Linked DNA regions of Homo sapiens: regions 1 and 3 are each linked to region 2. Evidence: fine-mapped expression QTL. A gene starts in region 2. Each other region holds a variant in brackets. All regions are shown on one strand. Distances are between the middles of the regions. Region 1 overlaps ZSWIM9 (zinc finger SWIM-type containing 9). Region 2 holds the start of CARD8 (caspase recruitment domain family member 8). Region 3 overlaps CARD8 (caspase recruitment domain family member 8).

What was found. PIP is the estimated chance that this variant, and not a neighbour inherited with it, causes the effect.
Region 1: its variant is the best candidate, but not a certain one, in a credible set for the expression of CARD8 in unexposed skin (GTEx, PIP 0.63).
Region 3: its variant is the best candidate, but not a certain one, in a credible set for the expression of CARD8 in whole blood (INTERVAL, PIP 0.65).

The regions. Positions count from the first base shown.
Region 1 is chr19:48,197,449-48,203,701 of GRCh38, forward strand. It overlaps ZSWIM9 (zinc finger SWIM-type containing 9), which reads left to right. Exons shown (of 4, transcript NM_199341.4): 4 at 1-172. It also overlaps a transcript of CARD8 not described here. Among named protein-coding and RNA genes, the nearest start is that of ZSWIM9, 30 kb to the left of the region's middle. The variant G/A (reference allele first, on the strand shown) is at 2,019.
Region 2 is chr19:48,249,499-48,260,148 of GRCh38, forward strand. It overlaps CARD8 (caspase recruitment domain family member 8), which reads right to left and starts at 6,414. Exons shown (of 14, transcript NM_001184900.3): 1 at 6,294-6,414; 2 at 253-349; 3 at 25-135. It overlaps CARD8-AS1 (CARD8 antisense RNA 1), which reads left to right and starts at 6,177. Exons shown (of 2, transcript NR_040599.1): 1 at 6,177-6,296; 2 at 6,853-8,696. It also overlaps the pseudogene VN1R97P. RefSeq lists enhancers at 6,283-6,522, 10,437-10,636 and a silencer at 10,609-10,650.
Region 3 is chr19:48,230,574-48,235,573 of GRCh38, forward strand. It overlaps CARD8 (caspase recruitment domain family member 8), which reads right to left. Exons shown (of 14, transcript NM_001184900.3): 6 at 3,830-3,970; 7 at 1,880-1,920; 8 at 1,087-1,237; 9 at 204-433; 10 at 1-127. Among named protein-coding and RNA genes, the nearest start is that of CARD8-AS1, 23 kb to the right of the region's middle. The variant C/T (reference allele first, on the strand shown) is at 3,092.

The sequences.
Region 1 (6,253 bases), 54 kb before region 2:
AATGCAAGGGGCGTGGTTTTGGTTTTTCTCCAAGACCTGGAGACATCGACCCCCATCGCCTTCTGAAGAGAGAGGGAGGGCGGGCACTGGGGGTCAGGAGAGTCTCCAGCAGGGGAGGGGAATTGTTTGGACTATTGTTCTTCAGGATTGGAATAAAACAATCTTATTTTGGTTTCCGTGATGAGTTCTTGGCTTCTGGGGTTGGTTGGGAGTCCCAGATCCAGGGAACAGTTGAGATGGTCCAGCGTTCCTTCATTCTTTCTACCGACAAGGCCTCCTGGGGCCAGATGGATAGAGGAGCCACAATGAATTCATCTCCATAGCAACTCAAGCTTCCTCCTCCATCATCTGGACCAGTGCGTCCCAGTGGCAACTTCTTGACATGAGTCGATTCTACCTTCAAATGACTGACTCATGCCAAATGTCCTGGCCACAGAATGGGCCTGTGACCCAGTCCTGGTCAACGAGTCTGCTCAGGTTGAGGTGGGAGGCTTTTTTATTTTTATATTTTTGTAGAAACAGGGTCTTGCTATGTTACTCAGGCTGGTCTTGGACTCCTCGGCTTAAGCAATCCTCCTGCCACAGCCTCCCAAAGTGCTGGGATTACAGGTGTGAGCCACTGTGCTCAGAACTAGGAAGCTTTTTTTTTTTTTTTTTTGAGTCTTGCTCTGTTACCCAGGCTGGAATGCAATGGCACGTTCCCGGCTCACTGCAACCTCCACCTCCCAGGTTCAAGTGATTTTCATACCTCAGTCACCTGAGTAGCTGGGATTACAGGTGTGCGCCATCACACCTGGCAAATTTTTGTATTTTTAGTAGAGACGGGGTTTCACCATGTTGGCCAGGCTGGTCTCAAACTCCTGACCTCAGGTGACCTGCTCGCCTCAGCCTCCTAAAGTGCTGGGATCACAAGCGTAAGCCACTGCGCCCGGCCTAGGAGGCTTCTAATAAAGATTCTATCACTCCTAAGAAGGCCTAGAGACATGATCAGGCCTAGACCTGCTGATGATTACCTTGGTATGGTGTGATAATGAAGTCCACACTGAGGATGACAGAGCTGAGATGAAGAAAATCTGGATCTTTGCTTGGCTCAGTTGAGTCTCTCGAGTCTGCTCTACCATGGGGCTTCTTAAGTAAAATATATCCTTTTTTGTTAGAGACAGTGTCTCGCTCTGGCCCAGGCTGGAGTGCAGTGGTGCAAACATAGCTCACTGCAGCCTTCCAGCTCTTGGGCCCAAGGGATCCTCCAGCTCAGCCTCCTGAGTAGCTAGGACTATAGGCTCGTGCTACCACCTAGCTAATTTCTTTTTCTTTTCTTTTCTTTTCTTTTTTTTAACTTTTTGTAAAGATGAGGTCTCTTGCTACGTTACTTGGGCTGTTCTCAAACTCCTGGCCTCAAGCGATGCCCCTGCTTCAGCCTCCCAAAGTGCTAGAATTACAGATGTGGGCCATTGCACCTGGCCAATCAAAGATACCCTAATGATTTAGGGAAGTTTGAGTTGGGGTTTCTGTTGTCGCAACTGATGAAGGGGATTTAATTCTATTATAGGTGACAAAGTCCAGGTTGAAGTAGCTCAGCATTTTTCAAACTTTAGCGTGGACGTGAGTCACGTGGGCACCTTCTTAAAATACAGAGTCTGACTCAGTAGGTCTAAGATAGGGCCCAACATTCTAGCAAGCTCTCCGATGATGTGGCTGTGCTGGGTTGTGGAGCACACTTTGAGTAGCAATGAAGGAACTTGAGATAAAAGACAATTCAGGCCGGGTGTGGTGGCTCACACCTGTAATTCCAGCACTTTGGGAGGCTGAGGTAGGTGGATCACTTAAGGCCAGGAGTTCAAGACCAGCCTGGCCAGCAAGGCAAAATCCTGTCTCTACTAAAAATACAAAAATTAGCCAGATGTGGTGGCGGGTGCCTGTAGTCCCAGCTACTTGGGAGGCTGAAGCATGAGAATTGCTTGAACCCAAGAGGCGCAGGTTGCAGTGAGCCAAGATCGTGCCACTGCACTCCAGCCTGG[G/A]TGACAGAGCGAGACTCTGTCAAAAAAAAAAAAAAAGAAAAAAAATGATTCAGTGGTTCAAGTCATGCGAAGTCAAAGGCTTTGATGGCAGCTGACTGCAGGGGCTCAAACAATGTCAGGTTTCCCCTCTCTCGCCTGCTTTTCGTGCGATGGATTTCTTCAAAAGACAGCTCTCTCCTGAGAAAGGGGGGGACTAGAAGTTCCCATATCACACCCTCCTATCTTGATCCAAAAATACCATTCTATCAGCATTCGTATATTAAGTCTCAAGGAAGCAGCAGGTTGGATTTATGGAGGTTATCAGTTATCCATGGCTACATAAATGCTGTGTTAACAACTATAAAACTTCCTAAGTATATAACAATAAACATGTATTTGGAATCAACCTAAATGCCCATCAATAATCATAAGCTAGATAAAGAAAATATGGTACATATACACCATGGAATACTATAGAGCCATTAAACAACTAGATCATGTTCTTTGCAGGGACATGGATGGAGCTGGAGGTCATTATCCTTAATGAACTAACACAGGAACAGAAAACCAAATACTGCATGCTCTCACTTATAAGTGGGAGCTAAATGATGAGAAGAAATGACACAGAGAGAGGGGCAACACACATGGAGACCTACTAGGGGGTGGAGGATGGGAGGAGGGAGAGGATCGGGAAAAATAACTAATGGGTACTAGGCTTAATACCTGGGTGACAAAATAATCTGTACAACAAACCCCCATGATAAAAGTTTACCTATACAACAAACCTGCACATGTACCCCTGACTTTAAAAGTTAAAACAATAATAAAAATGAACACGTATTGCTTATGAGTCTTGGGTCACCTGAGGGGTTGGCTAGACCCTTGCTTTTCAGTGTGGTGCATGCAACAGTGTCATGAACATTCCCTAGGAGCTTGTTAGAAATGCAGATTCTCGGCTGGGCACGGTGGCTCACACCTGTAATCCCAGCACTTTGGGAGGCTGAGGTGGGCGGATCACCTGAGGTCAGGAGATCGAGACCATGCTGGCCAACATGGTGAAACCCTGCCTCTACTAAAAATACAAAAATTAGCTGGGCGTGGTGGCGCACCTGTAGTCCCAGCTACTCGGGAGGCTGAGGCAGGAGAATCTCTTGAACCCAGGAGGCGGAGGTTGCAGTGAGCCGAGATCGCTCCACTGCACTCCAGCCTGTGCGACAAAGTAAAACTCCATCTCAAGAAAAAGAAAGAAAGAAAAAAGAAAGAAATGCAGATTCTCAAACCCATTCCAAAACTACAGAATCAGAATCTCATTCTAACAAGATCCTAGTATGCATGTTATACTTTGAAAAGCAAAGCAACTGATCATAAACCTACAATTATCGGAAATAGGCTTATTTAAAAAAAATGAAAGCAGCTAATCTTGATAAAGTAGCTGATCTTCGTTGGGCTTGCCCACATATCGGGAGTCATCTGGCTTTTGGGTGAACTAAAAAGGCCTTGGCAGGGCTTGGTGGCTCATGTCTGAAATCCCAGCACTTTGGGGGGCCAAAGTGGGAGGACCGCTTGAGCCCAGGAGTTCAAGACGAACCTGGGCAACATAGGAAGACCCCGTTTCTACAAAAATAGAAACAAAATTAGCCTGGTATGATGGTGCACGTCTGTGATCTCAGCTACTCAAGAGGCTAAGGTGGGAGGATCTCCTGAGCCTGGGAGGTCGAAGCTGCAGTGAGCCATGATTGTTCCACTGCACTCCAGCCTGGGTGACAGAGTGAGACTCTGTCTCAAAAAATGCCTTGGCCGGGAGGACTAGGGTAACTCGTTCAGCACGTAGACCCCTCCAGTACAACCCTATGAAACTTCCCTGCAGCCCCTGCCTTTGCAGACAGCTCTTCGTCTGCTGTGCTGCCCATTGCTTTCTTGCAATGTACTATCTGTCTAATAAATCTGCCTTTCTTTCCCTACGACTGTCTTGATAAATGCCTTTACCTCCCATGATACTGGCCCCAGCTAGTCACACCCGTGATGCCCATCTCTTTTTTTTTTTTGAGATGGAGTCTCGCTCTGTCGCCCAGGCTGGAATGCAGCAGCACGATCTCGGCTCTCTGCAAGCTCTGCCTCCCGGGTTCACGCCATTCTCCTGCCTCAGCCTCCCGAGTAGCTGGGACTACAGGTGGCCGGCACCACACCCGGCTAATTTTTTCTATTTTTTAGTAGAGACGGGGTTTCACCGTGTTAGCCAGGATGGTCTCGATCTCCTGACCTCATGATTCGCCCACCTCGGCCTCCCAAAGTGCTGGGATTACAGGCGTGAGCCACTGCGCCCGGAGATGCCCATCTCTTAAAATAAAAAATAAAAAAAAAAAAAGAAAGAGAGAAAGGAAAGGAGGCAGGAGGGATCCTGGGAAGGCAAACAACAGCTATTGAGCGCAAACCAAATCCAAAACTTCTCCACTTGCCTGTTTTATCATTAGATTCTTAGATGTGGGCTATCTGGTTAGTGACGGGAAGCTGAATTAATTCATTAATTGATTCACCAAATAACACACAGAACCCTGGGGTGGAAAAGAGCTCAGCCCATAAGGTAAAGAGAAGATGGGCCAGTGTAGATGGGTCAGAGTGTGAAAGAGGGAGAGATTTGGACAGTGAAATCCGCAAGCCCTTAAAGATAGAAGATGAGGTGAGTCTTTATCCTGGGAGGTATGGGAAGCCTTCAAAAGGTTTTAAACAGAGAGTGGCTTGATTGGATGTACATTAGAATAACCACCTCCCCTACCCCAGAAGCTTTACTGTGACAAATGGATTGGATGAGTCCAGACCAGGAAGAGACGTATGTGACCATAAACAAACAAATAAAAATAAATTTTAAAAAACAGGCAGAAGGATCTTCACAGAACTGGACCTTGAAGAATGTGTTTGCCAGGAAAAGAGAATGAAGAAGTACGTTCCTATTGGAGGGAACTGCACGTATTACAGTATTTGGCCCTTCAGGAAGGCAAGAGGAAACTAAAGGTTAGTAAACCTTAACCCTCTATATGCCCCACATATATAGCTCACAGTGTTAAATCAAGTTTAGCCTAAAGCTGCCTCCTTACATATTTTAAGTTCGGCCTGAAGGTTTTTCTGTACGTCGTGAACTATAACAAGTGGAGGTGTAAACAGAAGGTGGCCTACGCTTGTGCCAATCACCGAGTTTTGGGCAATCAAATGTAGCCAACTGTTCGAACTGTGTACAGCAAACGCCGAGCTGTAATCAATCCAGCTGTTTCTGTACCTCACTTACGTTTTCTGTATGTCACTTTCCTTTTTCTGTCCATAAATCTTCCACCACATGGCTGTGCTGGAGTTTCAGCCTACTCTGGCCCGAGGCTACCTGATTCGTGGATCCTTCATTGCTCAATTAAACTCTATTTATTTATTTATTTAGAGATGGAGTCTCGCTCTGTTGCACAGGCTGGAGCACAGTGGTGCGATCTCAGCTCACTACAACCTCCACCTTCTGCGTTCAAGCAATTCTTGTGCCTCAGCCTCCCGAGTAGCTGGGACTACAGGTGCCCACCACCATGCCTAGCTAATTTTTGTATTTGTAGTAGAGACAGGGTTTTGCCATGTTGACCAGGCTGGTCTCAAGCTCCTGACTTGAAGCCATCCGCCCTCCTCGGCCTCCCAAAGTGCTGGGATTACAGGCATGAACCACAGTGCCTAGCCAATTAAACTTCTTTAAATTTAATTCGTCTGAAGTTTTTCTTTTATCACAAGTCACATCAATCCCTCGGGCCCCTGCTCAAATGCCACCTCTTCCTGAAAGCCATCCCTAAGTAGTCTCTCTAAAGAGCCATCCCTGCCCCTTTCTTTGCTTTATCCTTCACAGCACTTATCACTACCTGAAATTATGCCACACAGCTATTTACCACTTTGGCATTGTGATTAAGCTTATCAAGTATGAAGCCAGACTGCCTGGGTTCAAATCCCAGCTCCACTACTTCCTTGTCATGTGACCTTCCAGCCTATGTTACAGTTGAGGGGTCATAATAGTACCTGTCTATAGGGCTTTGTGAGGATGAATGAATTAGTGTGTGTACCAGTGTTCTAACATCGCCTGCATTTCCATTTTTCCCAAAGCAGCCCAGTTACTTATTAACATACTGCTTTTTCCAGTGACACGTGTTCACAGTTATTAAGTCGATCTCCCGCCAAAATAGAAGCTCTATTTTGTTTTCCATTGTATCCCCAGTGCCTAGAACAGTGCCTGTTGCAAA
Region 2 (10,650 bases):
GTAGTCGTGTTTTTTCCTACTCACATTGAAGATGGCCCAGATGCTTGCACTAACCGCGTTTACCGCCCACAGCCATCATGGCGACCGGAAGTCCTGAGAGCTTGTTTCCCTCGAATCTCAGACAGCCCTCCTTCTCTATGAACATTATTTCAAAAGAAGTTGAGAACTAGAGAAACCGAAGCTTAAGGGGATTCTCCCATTTGGCCTGTCCTCCCCTAAAGTCACCACCTGCTGCGTTTCTGCAGCGCTTACCATGTGAGTTTCAGGAGCCCCAGGGTGCAGGAAGGAGGAGCGGAGGCTTGTTGCTTGGACACTGCCAGGCTGCTCTGTGTTCTGTTCCTCTTGGTCACTTGAGAAGAAAGGGAGAAGTTCCTATGAGGCTGTCGGAAAGGGAAATGGGGCCCTCCGCTTGTTGAAAACAAAACAAAACCCTCAGGAAGCTTTGCATCCTGTTAGTCATAGCTTAAATTTATGACTTCAATGACTTGGCTGGGACAGTCTTAATCTCTCCATACTCAAGTTGTTTTAATTTCTGTAATAATAATTTTTATACCAATGTTTGTGTTGTTAATACTAATAATTTTACATTGTAACTGTAATCCTTTAATTATTACAAGTGTTAACCTAAATAACAAACATATGAAAGCTTCCTAAAGGAAACAGTGTTTATTTGGGAATAGAGCATTGCAATTGGGAATAGATATGCCATATTAAACTATGTATATATTCAGGAAGATAAAGGAAGACAGAAATGGGGAGGATTGCATATTGTTTTGACAGGATTTTCCTTGGCCACAGGATCAGGCACAAAGGTGACATTAGTCTGAGGTTGGACAGGCAGTTGCTGGGCAGCATTCCTTGCAGAAATATTTTTTGTTTAAGGTTGCAATGACCTTTATGCAAGGTTGTGGGTTTTGTAGAGTCTTTTTCATTTTCAAGCATACAAGGATAAGACCCCCCCTCTTCATGGCTTTCCTGGCTTTATTTGTCAGGGTCATCTTAACATTAGTGGCTCCATTTTGTTCTGACAACTTTCAGATTTCTCCTTGTGATCAAGAACTTTCTCTAAAAGCATTATTGATCAATCATTCTGTAATTAAGATTTGATGTCCCCTGATGCCAGCATGGACCTCTCCCAGTTTGCTGGTCTCATCCCATGTTGTGGGGAGTGACTGGTGACTAGGAATCGATGTCAAAAGCACATTTGAGCAACAAAAGAGATTTGAAGGATGTGGCTCTCAGGCTAAGTCTCCCTGGAGTCCATTAGTAAGTTCAATTTTGTCTGTTCTACAGTCTTTTGCTATCCCTTTAAAGTGCTGATTCAGTATTATTTTGTTAGGAGCTGCACCTCTGAAAAAATTTAACAAGTAACACATACAAAGTTTAAAAAGGAGAAATACAAAGTAAGGGGAAATACAAATTAAGAGCAATATGAGATTTTCAGTTTGCATATGGTTTTGAGCCATAAACCTAGGTTTAAAGACAACTAATTGAAGAACTCAAACAGTTATTCGAGACAGCAGGGAGTTAGGTGAGACCTGGGGTAACCACATGGCCTGCTTTCTTATTTTGTGTATAGGAGCCTCAACTTTTCTCAGAGGAATTTATTCAGGTATAGCATGTCGTATTAGCAACATCACAGACAATTTCTTGCTTAACCAATGGATACTAAAGAATTTTGTAGGTTGGGTTCTGTTAAGTTATAAGCAGAAGGAATTGATCATAAAATTTAAGTTACACCATTATTCTGCTAAGTAGAAAAGGTCGAATTAAGTGAGATGAAAGTCTCATTATGATATAGAGTCTTGTTTCAGCATCTTGCAGAAAGTTATACAGTGTGAAAACACCAACTTTTTCTCCTGGTTTGTAGTGTGAACGTCTCTGGTTATGATATTGGGCAGTTTGGTAAACTATTGTGTGATCCGCATATCAGCCTTGAGGTTTGTTCCCTCTTTCATTTTCCTCTGGATCACCAACATGCTAATCTACGTTCACATCACTGAAACCGTAGAGGCCAATACCAATTTCACCATTTCTGGTCCTGGATATTTGCAAGACTGTTGTCAAACTAGGCCATACATACAATAATTTAATATACATTTGGGGCTTGGATTATATTTCTGTTAAATTGCACTGCTCTATGGGACTTATTTTATTCATTCCACAAATATATTTTGCACATGTTCCTTATTCTTGGTACTATTTAATGGATTTGGCATACATCCGTGATCTAAACAGATAAAACTCCCCCAAGGATCATTTATAAATGTCATGGTGATTCGCCATGTCCTGTTTGTGTTCCTCATGGTCTGGACCAGCATCAACATGGCCAGTCTCCTCTGCAGACACCGGCGGAGAGCCCAGCGTCTGCACAGCCCTAGCCTCTCTTCCCAGCCATCTCCTGAACACAGAGCCACCCATACCATCCTCCTGCTGCTTGGTTGCTTTGTGTGCTTTTATTGCTCAAACAACTTCATCACTCTTTATTTCTTTTATAAATCTGAGAAAAAATCAAGACTAGAGATGATCACTGGAATTATTTCATCATGCTACCCAACCATCTGCCCTTTTGTGCTAATAAAAAATAATAAAATTATTTCCTAATTTACCTCTTCCTCTCTAAGACAAGAATGATCAGCTCTCAGGGAGCATTCAATGGCTGATCTCAAACCCCATACTTTCTTCTGCAGCTGGGAAGTCTCCATGATGACTTTTGTGGAGAAAAAGTCATGCAGTTATTGAGCAATTGAATTAGGGCTAGTTTGAATTGAGGTGTATCATAAATTTAAAAAGCATTCAGGTTTTGAAGTCAATATAAATAACAGTATATAAATATTATCTTAATAACTTTCACATTGCTGACAAGTTTAAATTATGACATTTTGGGTAAAACGTATGTATATGTTTTGTTATGTTTACATATATATGCATATTTAAATAAAATACATATACACAAATATGTAAGTAAAACATATGTAAGAATATATATAATATATATAATTTTTTTTTTTTGAGACAGAGTCTTGCTCTGTCACCCAGGCTGGAGTATGCAGTGGTGTGATCTCAGCTCACTGCGGCCCCCACCTCCTGGATTCAAGCAATCCTCCCACTTCAGCCTTCCGAGTAGCTAGGATTATAGGTGTGCACCACCATGCCTGGCTAATTTTTTTGTATTTTTTAGTAGAGACAGAGTTTCCCCACGTTGGCCAGGCTGGTCTAGAACTCCTGACCTCAAGTGAACCGCCTGTGTCAGCCTCCAAAAGTGCTAGGATTGTAGGTGTGAGCCACCGCACTGGCCTTATCAGTATATACACACACACACACACACACACACACACATATGTGTATACATATACAACTACATAGGTATTTTTAAACTAACTGTATCTGCTTGTTTTTGCTTTTTTAAATGCAGTTGCTAGAAAATTTAATATACATTTGGGGCTTGGATTATATTTCTGTTAAACTGCACTGCTCTATGGCACTTCTTGTATTCATTCCACAAATACATTTTGCACATGTTCCTTATTCTTGGTACTATTTAATGGGTTGGACATACATCCATGATCTAAACAGATAAAACATAATAGCACAAGAGATTATACAGAATGTTTGTGGTACAGGAAAACGTATATGTACACATGATAGGAGCTAAAAAGAATAGGACTGGTTAAGAGAATGTGGTGTGTGAGAGTACAGGTGCAGGGAGCTGCAGTGACTGGGATTACAGGTATGCATCACCATGCCTGGCTAATTTTTGTATTTTTGTAGAGACGGGGTTTCACCAATTTGGCCAGGCTGGTCTCGAACTCCTGGCCTCACGTGATCCACCTGCCTCAGCCTCCCAAAGTGCTGTAATTACAGGTGTGAGCCACCGTGCCTGGCCAACATTTATCATTTTAAATACTCATCTGCAAAAATGTTTCCAAGTGGGGCCACTTCCCCACCCCTCATATGACAGTGGCAGTGATATACCATATACATGGTTATTAAAAAGAATCTGGAGCAACAATATGAATGTCAGACAAATTAGGCTTCAAGAGCATTTCCCTCCATCTTACAGGGGATAAACCCAAAGAAGTTATATTAAGATTCCAATAAAAGAATGCAAGATGACTATCTGTGTAAAAATGTAATCAATGGGGAGCAGGTGCACCTCCAATAATATTAGACAAAATATATTTTACCTAAACAGCATTACTAAGTATAAAGTAGATCACTTCAATAAGAATAACAATTTTAATTTTGTGTATACATATTCACACTTTCAATATGTATATAGTATACACGGGTAGAATGATAAACAGATATAGAATAATCCTCCACTCTTGTGGGAAATCTGTTCAATAGTCTTTCAGCAATTAACAGAATAACAGAGTATCAGTAAAGATATAAAAAATTGACCAAAGCAATTCATATTCTTGACTTAAGTGCCCTAGAATAACAACTCACACAGCCATTGAAGAATCCCCATCATCCTATCTCAAGCATAGAGGAAACACATAGCATACATATGTAGCCACATAGCAAACACAGAAATGACTATCAACAAAGTGGAAGAGTTTAATGCACAGATTAAGTTATCTGAATATATGTACAATGAGTTATAAATAATAAATAATTGAGCCAGGTGAAGTAGTACATGCCTGTAATCCCACCTACTTGGGAGGCTGAGGTAGGAGTTTGAGCCCAGGAGTTTGAGTCTGGTCTGGGCAGCATTGCAAGATCCCATCCCCCAAATAATAAATAAACTAACTAAGTAATCAATAATTGAATGAGAAAAGTTAGCTCATATTTCAATATGTTCAATCTTAGGATATATACTTCTAGGCAACCACTTAGTGACAAAAATTCTGTAGAAATCCATCATTGAAAGTTCATTATGTAAATAAATGTGAAGACTAGATAAGAACCACAGAACACAATGACATTGGAAAAAATGCCACAGTAATTCTTTGAAAAAAGAAATGCAGGCCTGGTGCGGTGGCTCATCCCTGTAATCCCAGCACTTTGGGAGGCCGAAGTGGGCAGATCACAAGTCAGGGGTTCGAGACCAGCCTGGCCAACATAGTGAAACCCCGTCTCTACTAAAAACACAAAAACAATTAGCTGGGTGTGGTGGTGGGCACCTGTAGTCGCAGCTACTCGGGAGGCTGAGGCAGGAGAGTGCTTTCAGAGAAACTTCTTGATCACAAGGGGAAATCTGAAAGTTGTCAGAACAAAATGGAGTCACTTATGTTAAGATAACCCTGACAAATAGAGCCAGGAAGGCCATGAAGAGAGGGCTCTTATCCTTGCATGCCTGAAGATGAAAAAGACTCTACAAAACCCACAACCTTACATAAAGGTCTTCACAACCTTAAAAAAATATATATTTCTGCAAGGAATGCTGCCCAGCAACTGCTGGTCCAACCTAGGACTAATGTCACCCTTGTTACTGATCTTTGTAGCCAAGGAAAATTCTGTTAAAACAATATGCAATCCTCCCCATTTCTGTCTTCCTTTATCTCCCTGAATATACACATAGTTTAATACGGCATGTCTATTCCCAATTGCAATGCTCTATTCCCAAATAAACATTGTTTCCGGCTGGGCGCAGTGGCTCACGCCTGTAATCCCAACACTTTGGGAGGCCAAGGCGGGCTGATCTCGAGGTCAAGAGACGGAGACCATCCTGGCCAACATGGTGAAACCCCGTCTCTACTAAAAAATAAAAAATTAGCTGGATGTGGTGGTGCACGCCTGTAGTCCCAGCTACTTGGGAGACTGAGGCACGAGAATCGCTTGAACCTGGGAGGCAGAGGTTGCAGTGAGCCAAGATCATGCCACTGTACTCCAGCCTAGCCACAGAGCGAGACTCCATCTCAAAAAGAAAAAAAAATTGTTTCCCTTAGGAAGCTTTCATATGTTTGTTAGTTAGGTTAACACTTCTAATAATTAAAGTTATACAGTTACAGTGTAAAATTATTAGTATTAACAACATAAACATTGGTATAAAAATTATTATTACAGAAATTAAAACAAATTGAGTGTGAGAGAGATTATTAAGACTGTCCAAGCCAAGTCACTGAAGTCATAAATTTAAGTTATGACAGGATGCCGAGCTTCCAGAGGGTTTTGTTTTTAACAAGGGAGGGGCCCTATTTCCCCTTCTGACACGCTCATATGAACTTCTCACTTTGTCGTACTCCTTCCTTGCTGACTAAGAGGAACAGAACACAGAGCAGCCTGGCGGTGTCCTACCAACAAGCCTCCGTTTCTCCTTCCTGTACACTAGGGCTCCTGAAACTCACCTGGTAAGCGCTCCAGAAAAGCAGCAGGTGGTGACTTTAGGGTAGGACGGGCCAAATGGGAGAATCCCCTTAGGTCGGTTTCTCTGGTTCTCAACTTCTTTTGAAATAACGCTCGCAGAGGAGGTGGGCTTTCTGAGAACTGAGGGAAGTAAGCTCTCAGGACTTCCGGTCGCCATGATGGCTGTGGGCAGTCAATGGGGTCAGTGCAAGCATCTGGGCCATCTTTAATGTGGGCAGGAAAAAAACACGATTACACTTACTTCTGCAGAGTTTATAATATCCTTGTTCATTATTTAAAATAAAATATCTAAGACATAGGTAATAGTATATTTTAAATAAAATTGAAGCAATATATGAAATTTCTCTGGAATTCATCCAGCCACTCTCAGCTGTTACCACTATCCAGAAACGTCTTAATCCGCCTGCATGATTTATGTATTTGGTTTGTATTTTAAATATCATTTTCTGTAATATTTAAAAGTTGTATTTGCTTGGTATCCTGCTATGCATTCTCATGCAATTTGATTTTTAATCAATATTACTTTTTTTTTTTTTTGAGATGAAGTCTCCGTCTGTCACCCAGGCTGGAGTGTAATGGAGCAATCTCGGCTCACTGCAACCTCTGCCTCCCAGGTTCAAGCGATTCTCTTGCCTCAGCCTCCCGAGTAGCTGGAATTATAGGTGCATGCCACCACGCTCGGCTAATTTTTTGTATTTTTAGTAAAGACGGAGTTTCACCATGTTGGTCAGGATGGTCTCCGTCTCTTGACCTCGAGATCAGCCCGCCTCGGCCTCCCAAAGTGCTGGGATTACAGGCGTGAGCCACTGTGCCCGGCCTTGGTTTCTAAATACTATTTTGAAGTATCTGTGGAGAAATGGTTACTTCGAGGGCTGGGGCAGGAATATATAAGATAACATTGGAACAAATTCTGACGCCAGAACATGAAGAAATATTTGAAAAAGGATGGGGCATATTGACTGAACACAGAAGACAAACATGCATGACCTCAGCCTAATCGTGAGAAAACATCAAAGAAATCCAAATTGATAAACATTCTGTAAAATAATTGGCCATGCTCAGCAAAAGTGTCACAATCACAAAAGACAAGGGAAGAATAAGAAACGGTCACAGCCTGGAGGAATCTAAGGACATAACAACTGAGTGCAATGTGAGATCCTCGATTCGATCTTGGAGAAGAAAGAGGACGTTAAGAGAAATATTGACAAAATTCAAATAAGGTCTGCACATTAGGTAATGGTAAGATACGTTGACATCAATTTCCTGGTTGGATACTTGTATTACATATACTATTATGTATATAATTATTATATTACAATTACATATACAGTTGTATATTATATATAATACAATAAATGTATATATATGATTATAATACAATAAATGTATATATACAGTTTTATATATAACAACTATTATACATATAATACAATTATATATATAGCTAACATCAGGATAGGCTGGTTGAGGATTTATATGAATCTTTGCTAATTTTGCATGTTTAAAATTATTTCAACATAAAAAAATTATATGGGTCATGTAGTTTTTTGTGCAGTTTAATTCTAGGCACCATAGTTTCTGTTTTAATGGGTGTATTTTCTTCTTTCAAGGAATTGGGATAGTCTGTTGTATTAAAAACCTATTCATTTTTGTACATTAAGATTCTTCTGGCCAGGCGCAATGGCTCAAGCCTATAATCCCAGCACTTGGGAACCTGAGGCAGGCAGATCACCTGAGGTCAGGAGTTCAAGACCAGCATGTCCAACATGGTGAAACCCCATCTCTACTAAAAATACAAAAAAAATTAGCCAGGCATGGTGGCACATGCCTGTAATCCCAGCTACTTGGGAGGCTGAGGAGGAGACTCACTAGAACTCAGGAAGCAGAGGTTGCAGTGAGCCAAGACTGCGCCACTGCACTCTGGCCTAAGCAACAGAGGGAGACTCCATCTCAAAAAAAAAAAAAGATTATTTCTCTAACTTACTGGTTTATCTTTTATAGCTTATTTCAGGTGATTTGTTGTGTTTGTCTATAGAGTAAAATAACATGTCTAATGAGTTATAATTTAATGTCCTTCCATTCAATCACTGTATTTCAAATTTATTCCAATATTTTGGAATAAGCTTCCAATATTTTAACTTAAATAGGGAAGGTCATACTTGGTATTTTCCTGACCTCAGCTGGAATGCCTTCATAGTGTTCACATGAACACATTTGGCCTGAGAGAGACTTATTATGCCGAGAATGTGTGTAACCCTTTTTACTTAGGAATTGTGGGTGGAGTTTTTCCCCCCGCCCAAGAATGATTGTTAATTTCCGTCCATCATTTTCCTTTGATTGTTCTTCATCTCGAAAACAAATAATAAAATAATAAAATAAATAAATAAAACTTACTGGTCTTCTCACCTATTTTCTTGCAGTGCCTTTAAGCAATGCTCTGCCAATATCTTTTTCTTAATTATTATGGAATGCATGGGACCGTTCCATGCCTGATTATATGCAGAATGTTCTTTCTACAAGTGAGTTTTTGTAGTATTTCTGTACTCTGCCATACTAGGGCATTTCTCTGTTTTCAAGGATCTCCCAACCACACCGCCTCTACCACATTTATCTCCTGCTCAGCCTCCACTCCAACTGCCCAGACCTCACAGCTCTTGTATTCAAACTCTATCGATAAATCACCGAGTATGAGGCTTTACTCACAGGAAATTACTCTTCTGGCACTTCCTGACTTCTTTATGTTTTCTCACTCTGCACTTCCTCCCTGTTCCTCCGCTATGCTTCACCCTGACTTAACACAGTTTTGTCAGCCAGTGAGAAACATGTGGATCTGTGAATTCTATCTGTCTCCTCGTTATTCTGAAAATGGAGTTTGCATGGACTTTTCCGTTCACCTTATTGCTTTCATTGATACTCAGTAATAGACAAGATAAACTGTTATTTCTCATTGCCTTGTTCATTTCAGAAGTACCAGGTAGAATTTTACAATTCTTGCCTTGATACATATTCCCAGTAATTGTTGAGTGATTTAATTGTATGTTGTCTTGATATTACTTTGGTCATATATTACATTATTTCTCATTTTTGAATATCTGGATTTACATAAATTCTGTGTAATTCAGGTTTGTATTTATCCAAGTTCTCAGAAACTACAACTGCTGTAATTGATCATAACTCTCCTAATACAGGTGTAACTAAAGTGAGAGATGCTTTTTGACTCATGAAAAAAAGAAGACTGTAGACCAAGTCTCAATAACTTCCACTTAATCCTATAGAAAGTTAGCCAAGATAATGTACACCTTCTTTAAGATTCTTATAAGGAAAAGATTCCATTTTGTTTCTTGAAATGAGGTATTGCTTTGTCGCCCAGACTGGAATGCAGCGGTGCCATCATAGCTCACTGCGACCTTAAACTCCTGGGCTCAAGGGATCCTCTCACTTCAGCCTCCCGAGTAGCTGGGACTACAGGCACAAACCACTGTGCCTGGCTTCATGAGAAAAAATTAAATATATAATGGTACTAGGTAAAATAATACTAAATAAGAAGTAATTTGAATGCATACTATATTAACTCTGGAATAACGATACTTAAGTAAAAGAAAAGTGTTCGTTACAACAAAGGGAAGCTTGTAGTTCAGAGGATAGCTAAATTAAATTTGTTGCAGGCTGTGAGAGACATAACAAACATAAACACATGAAATATGTAGATTTTTATATTTTTATTGAAAATTGGATAGAAATATTTGGTTTGTTCAGTTGGAACATGTGAGTTGATTATTATGCATATAAATAAACAGACATTCAGTGTAGGGGCCAGCCCTACAGGGTCTGTGGGTCTTTCTCCCGTTGTGCGGAGACGAGAGATCGTAGAAATAAAGACACAAGACAGAGAAATAGAAGAAAAGACAACTGGGCCCGGGGGACCACTACCACCAAGATGCGGAGACCAGCAGTGGCCCCGAATGCCTGGCTGTGCTGATATTTATTGGATACAAGGCAAAAGGGGCAGGGTAAGGAGTGTGAGTCATCTCTAATGATTGATAAGGTCACATGAGTCACGTTTCCACCGGACAGGGGGCCCCTCCCTGTTTGGCAGCCCTGGTGGAGAGAGAGAGGAGACAGCTTATGCCATTATTTCTGCATTTCAGAGACTTTTAGTACTTTTACTAATTCTGCTACTGCTATCTAGAGGGCGGAGCCAGGTGTACAGAGTGGAACATGAAAGTGAAACAGGAGCGTGACCGCTGAAGCACAGCATCACAGGGAGCCGGTTAGGCCTCCGGATAACTGCGGGCGGGCCTGACTGATGTCAGGCCTTCCACAAGAGACGGTGGAGCA
Region 3 (5,000 bases), 22 kb before region 2:
CCCATCAGAGAGAAGCTGGGGCTTTCCAGGACAGCATAGAAAGGCTCCACCCGGGCTGGATGCTCCAGGACCATCCCTTCATTCTTAAAATGGGCAACGAGAAACCAGGAGACGTCCACCTCACCTGCTGCAGGAGAACCACAACAGCAGTGAGACGGCACGCACCCCAGCGGCCCCCACAGCCTCCGCTCACCCCACATTACCTTGGAGGGAGATGAAGTGGGGGAGGTGGATTTCGGCGACAGCCTCCTCTGGCTCTGCAGTGACATCAAACAAGGGGCCGCCCACCAGCCACTGTTCATGGTGCTGCAGGTCCAGGGCCAGGTGCTGACTCCAGGAACCAAACGCAATCGTCACTGTGACCTCATCCCTTACCAGGAAGCCGAGGCCTGTGGCTGACCACAGATACCAGCCAGCAGTGGGGAACCAAACGCTGAAAGGAGCCAGAGTGATGTCATGACGGGAGAACCCCAGGACTTGGATTTAAGCAGCGATGTGCAGAGGGAGGTGGGATTTGAAGTGAGGCAAGGTTCAGGACCCATCTGCGACTTTCACTACATTAGAAAACGCTGGGGAGTTCATTAACCTCTCTGGGCCCCAATTTCTCTGCATTCTATATATGTTGAAATTAAAATACCAACTTCACAGTGCATGAAATAAACATATTATTGATGAAATTTTAGCTATCATAAGGGATGGAACCGATACGCTTCCTTTTGTATTTATATTTTTATTTATTTATTTATTTTGAGACAAAGTCTCGCTCTGTCTCCTAGGCTGCAGTGCAGTGGCGAGATCTCATCTCACTGCAACCTCTGCCCCCTGGGTTCAAGAGATTCTCCTTTCTCAGCCTCCTGATTAGCTGGGACTACACGCGGGTGCCACCACGCCTGACTAATTTTTGTATTTTTAGTAGAGACAGGGTTTCGTCATGTTGGCCAGGCTGGTCTCGAACTCCTGACCTTGTGATCCGCCCTCCTCCACCTCCCAAAGTGCCGAGATTACAGGCCTGAGCCACCACGCCTGGCCTACACACTTCCTTTATATCAGAGTGGTTTTCAAATCATCAGCATCTTCCATTCTTACCTGTATCTGTTTGTGCTCTTATCAATCAACTCAACATCCACATTTCCTTCAGGCCCCAGAAACTGACGATTTTTATAATCTTCTTCGATCTCAAAACAGACTTTAGAAGCATAAGAGGAAACTATTTGATTCTCTTCTGAGCAAATGTCTCCTGAAAAGAAAATACTAGACATGTAAGAGGTAAAGGGTTGGAAGAGGCATGGCCTGAAGGACTCCTGGAGGCTGAATTGCACAGGTGCTGTTGGGATACAGATATCGAATGAGAGCTGAGAGTGACCAGAATATGCAGTTTCGCTTCTTTGAATCCAGACAAAGAAAGGCACAAGAATGTTCCTTGTCATGACTAAACGTATACACCAAATTCCATAAGACTTTCTGGGAAGCCAGGCTGGACAGCTTTGGTGGGAGGCACCATTTGCTGAGGACTGGAACCAATGCACCTACATTTCTACTGGTCCGAAATAGCAGAAGACACTTTCTGCTGGTGAGGAAAGTCCAGGTCAGAAAAGTATCGAACTCCAAAGATGCAGAGGCGAAAGAGCGTGCATCCTTCCTAGGCCCTGCTGCTGTCCCCAGCCACCAGGACCACCCACTGACTCCCCTGAGCATTTCCATGCCCCAGCAGTGACAGGCTTACATGTCCCCATTTAAACTGCACAGTGCACTGTGGCAAAGGTAAGGGAAAGCACTCCTGATCTGCACAAAAGACTCTAAATTGTCTTCTTCACATAAAATCACAGAACATTTCCATCAATCCACACGCCCTTCACTCCTCTCCCTATTAGCCCATTACCTGAATCTTGTCCCTCTGAAGATTCCTGCTCTTCTGATACACTGGAGGTTGGGATCCCCATGTTACAAAAAGATGAAAAACATCAAGAATCAGTTGATGAAGATGAAGACGATGTTATTGAAAACTAGAGCTGCACTGTCCCGTAGAGTAGCCGCTACCCGGATATGCTATTTAAATTTGTATGAATTAAACTTAGGTAAACTTTAGTTTCTCAGTTGCACTATCCATATTTCAAGTGCTCAACAGCTACATATCACTCACGGCTATAACACTGTGTAGCAGAGAATGGAACACTCCCGTCATCACAGAAAGTTCTCTTAGACTGGGCGGATCTAGACTATCAAGAAATAGAAGACATTTTGAATGAAGATATTTTTATCCACATTTATAAATAATAGAGATAACACACTCCCTTGAGCCAAATGTGTCTTGACATCTCTCCTTCTTCTCTTTGTATTATGCCCACGTTCAATGTGGACACAGCCAGATTCTCTGGCTTAAATTGATTGCTCCGATTGGTATCATACGATGTCGGAATCAAAGACTGAAGCAGTAATTCACCAATGCGTAAAATGTATGCATTTATATTCCAAGGTAATTCCAAACTTGACCACACCTGGGAAGCTTTAAAAACCACCCAATACCAGGTCACAGCCCACATCAATTGAATCAGAAGTCTGGAGGTGGCACCAAAGCATCGGCGCTTTCAAAGCCTCACAGGTGATTCCAATATTAGCCAATATGGGTTCTATGACATACAGCGTGAGCCAATGGTTCGTCATGCCTCTGGAGAGAAACCTGCCCTAACACAGGTGATACCTTCTGGAGCAAGGCAACCAACTCCATCAAATTCTCTGCCTTTGATCCATTCCTTGAGATATCTGTTTATTTCGACGTGAAAGAGACCAGCAGAGAAACTGACACGTGGATTAGGTTTAAAAAGAACAGGTACCTAGAGAAGTGGGATGAAGAGAAAGGCTTTACAGCGCTTTTCTCGGAAGGATTCTGTGGGCAAGCCAAGCATGGAGAGACCCCTGGGCTGACATCCTAAGACTGGTTGCTGTCTGCGGCTACACATTTTGCTATGGATTCGGGTAGCTACAGGCAAAGCAGCAAGAGTAAACATGCCATTTTATATTCTCTTTCCTGGTGCATGTGCATGCTGGAGTCTGCCTGCTGAGGAGGGGTTTAGAAAGTGGGAGGAACCCAGCG[C/T]TGAACTGCAGACAGCGCATCCCAGATCATGAGAGCTGACGGTTCCATTTTCAGGGCTTTTGCAACCAAGTTGTTCAACACAACCATTAGTCTAAATTAAATGATACAAGCTAACATTTAAATAAATCATATTAAAAACAAAAGTAATACATATTAAAACATACCAATTTCCAGTCATTTTTCTACACTTTTCAGCAGTCTATGCCCTTGAGGTTATTTATGTCTCTTGTATCTGTGTGGTGAAAGCAGGATGACAGACTTCTGCATGTGTTCTTTCAACTCCCTCATCAGGGGCTTCACGTTGGTAGTTTGAAATCTGCCATGATGGGGATATTCAACCCTTGGAAATTGGCATACCCTACAAATAGACGCATTCTCCCCTCCCCGGTGTTAAACCTCAGGACCCCACTGTGGCCTTCAGCCTCATCATCAGCCAGTTTCCTAGAGAATTAGGTTGGTTTTATGTATTGAGTAACAGCTTAACCAATAACCCACTGGTCTTCGATTGCATTGCTCATTGCCTTTTTGTGTATAGGTTCTCTAGACACCTCCATGGAAGAAAACCTCATTGCTTAAGGTTTGTTTCAAAAATTTCTGGATTCATTGCTAGTATTGCATAAGCTCATTCATTCTCCCCTGAGTTCGATGAAAAACACCCAAATTCCTCTAATTCTCATGTTCCTCTGTGATATTGAGACACAGCGTCCAATAGTTTTCCAACGGAATAGCTTTTCTTACCTGGGAATGTCCCCCCCAGATAGTTGACACTCAGGAACAGCACGGAACAATAATGGCTCTGCCTCTGTCTCATCATCTTCTTGGAAAAAATGTGAGATGTCACAAAGGGTCTCAGAAACACAGGGTAGCTCCCTGTATACCCTGGAAAACAACAACAGAATTTTTACTATGAATATAAGGTAGGTGCCTGATGATAGCATAGGCTGTGCAGGAAGATTTTATGTTAATAGCCATAGACTCAATATTTTATCTTAGGGAAGTCATTCCTCAGGCCCCTACGACTCCATCTCACCTCTCAGACTCCCATGACTCTTTCTTACATCTCATTATGTTAAATTTAACTGGCTCTCTGTTTCCCACTATATGCTGCTCTTTCCATCCTAGGAAGCAGACGTCAGTCAGTTCTCAACATCTAGCATTTGCCACAAACATTGGTTTCATAATAGGTCAACAAGTATGTTGACCTATATAACCTTGCTAAGAATTTTAGGGAAAGGATGAGATTCCTAATTTGTAGTCTCCCTTCATCCATAATTGGTGCCCGAGAGAATAGGACCCTAAAATGATTGGGATTGCAGGGCATTAGTGAGATTGGGCATGTTTTATAAGAACCCATGGAACAGTTATCTCCTCTTCTCCCTTCTGCCTGCAAATGGTGAGAGGGGTTGCATAAAGCAACAAAAATGCTCACAGAAAAAGAAAATTATGGATATTGTACACACTTTCTTTTCCCATCAAGGATCCTTATTCAGATATGGAACATGAGAGTCCTATGCTAGATCCTTTTCTCTTCTTCATTTTTGAAGGCTTGGTGCTGTCCTCCTATGGCTGGCAGGAATCAAGATTGAGGTTAGGAGTGATGGAGTGTCCTTTATGCCAAGATATTCAATGGCCAATATGACAGCCACTAGCCACACCTGCCTATTTACATTTAGTTTTAAATTGTTAAATGTGAAAATCAGTTCCTCCTTTGAAGTAGCCATATTTCAAGTGCTCAAAAGCCACACGTGGCTCTTGCCTGCCACCATGTAAGACATGCCTTTGCTCCTCCTTTGACTTCTGCCATGATGGTGAGGCCTCCCCAGCCACGTGAAACTAAAAGAATTTTTCTGGGTAATGGACATAGGCATAGGACGTCTGGCAACAAAATCTGCTTTGAAGAGGACTCCAG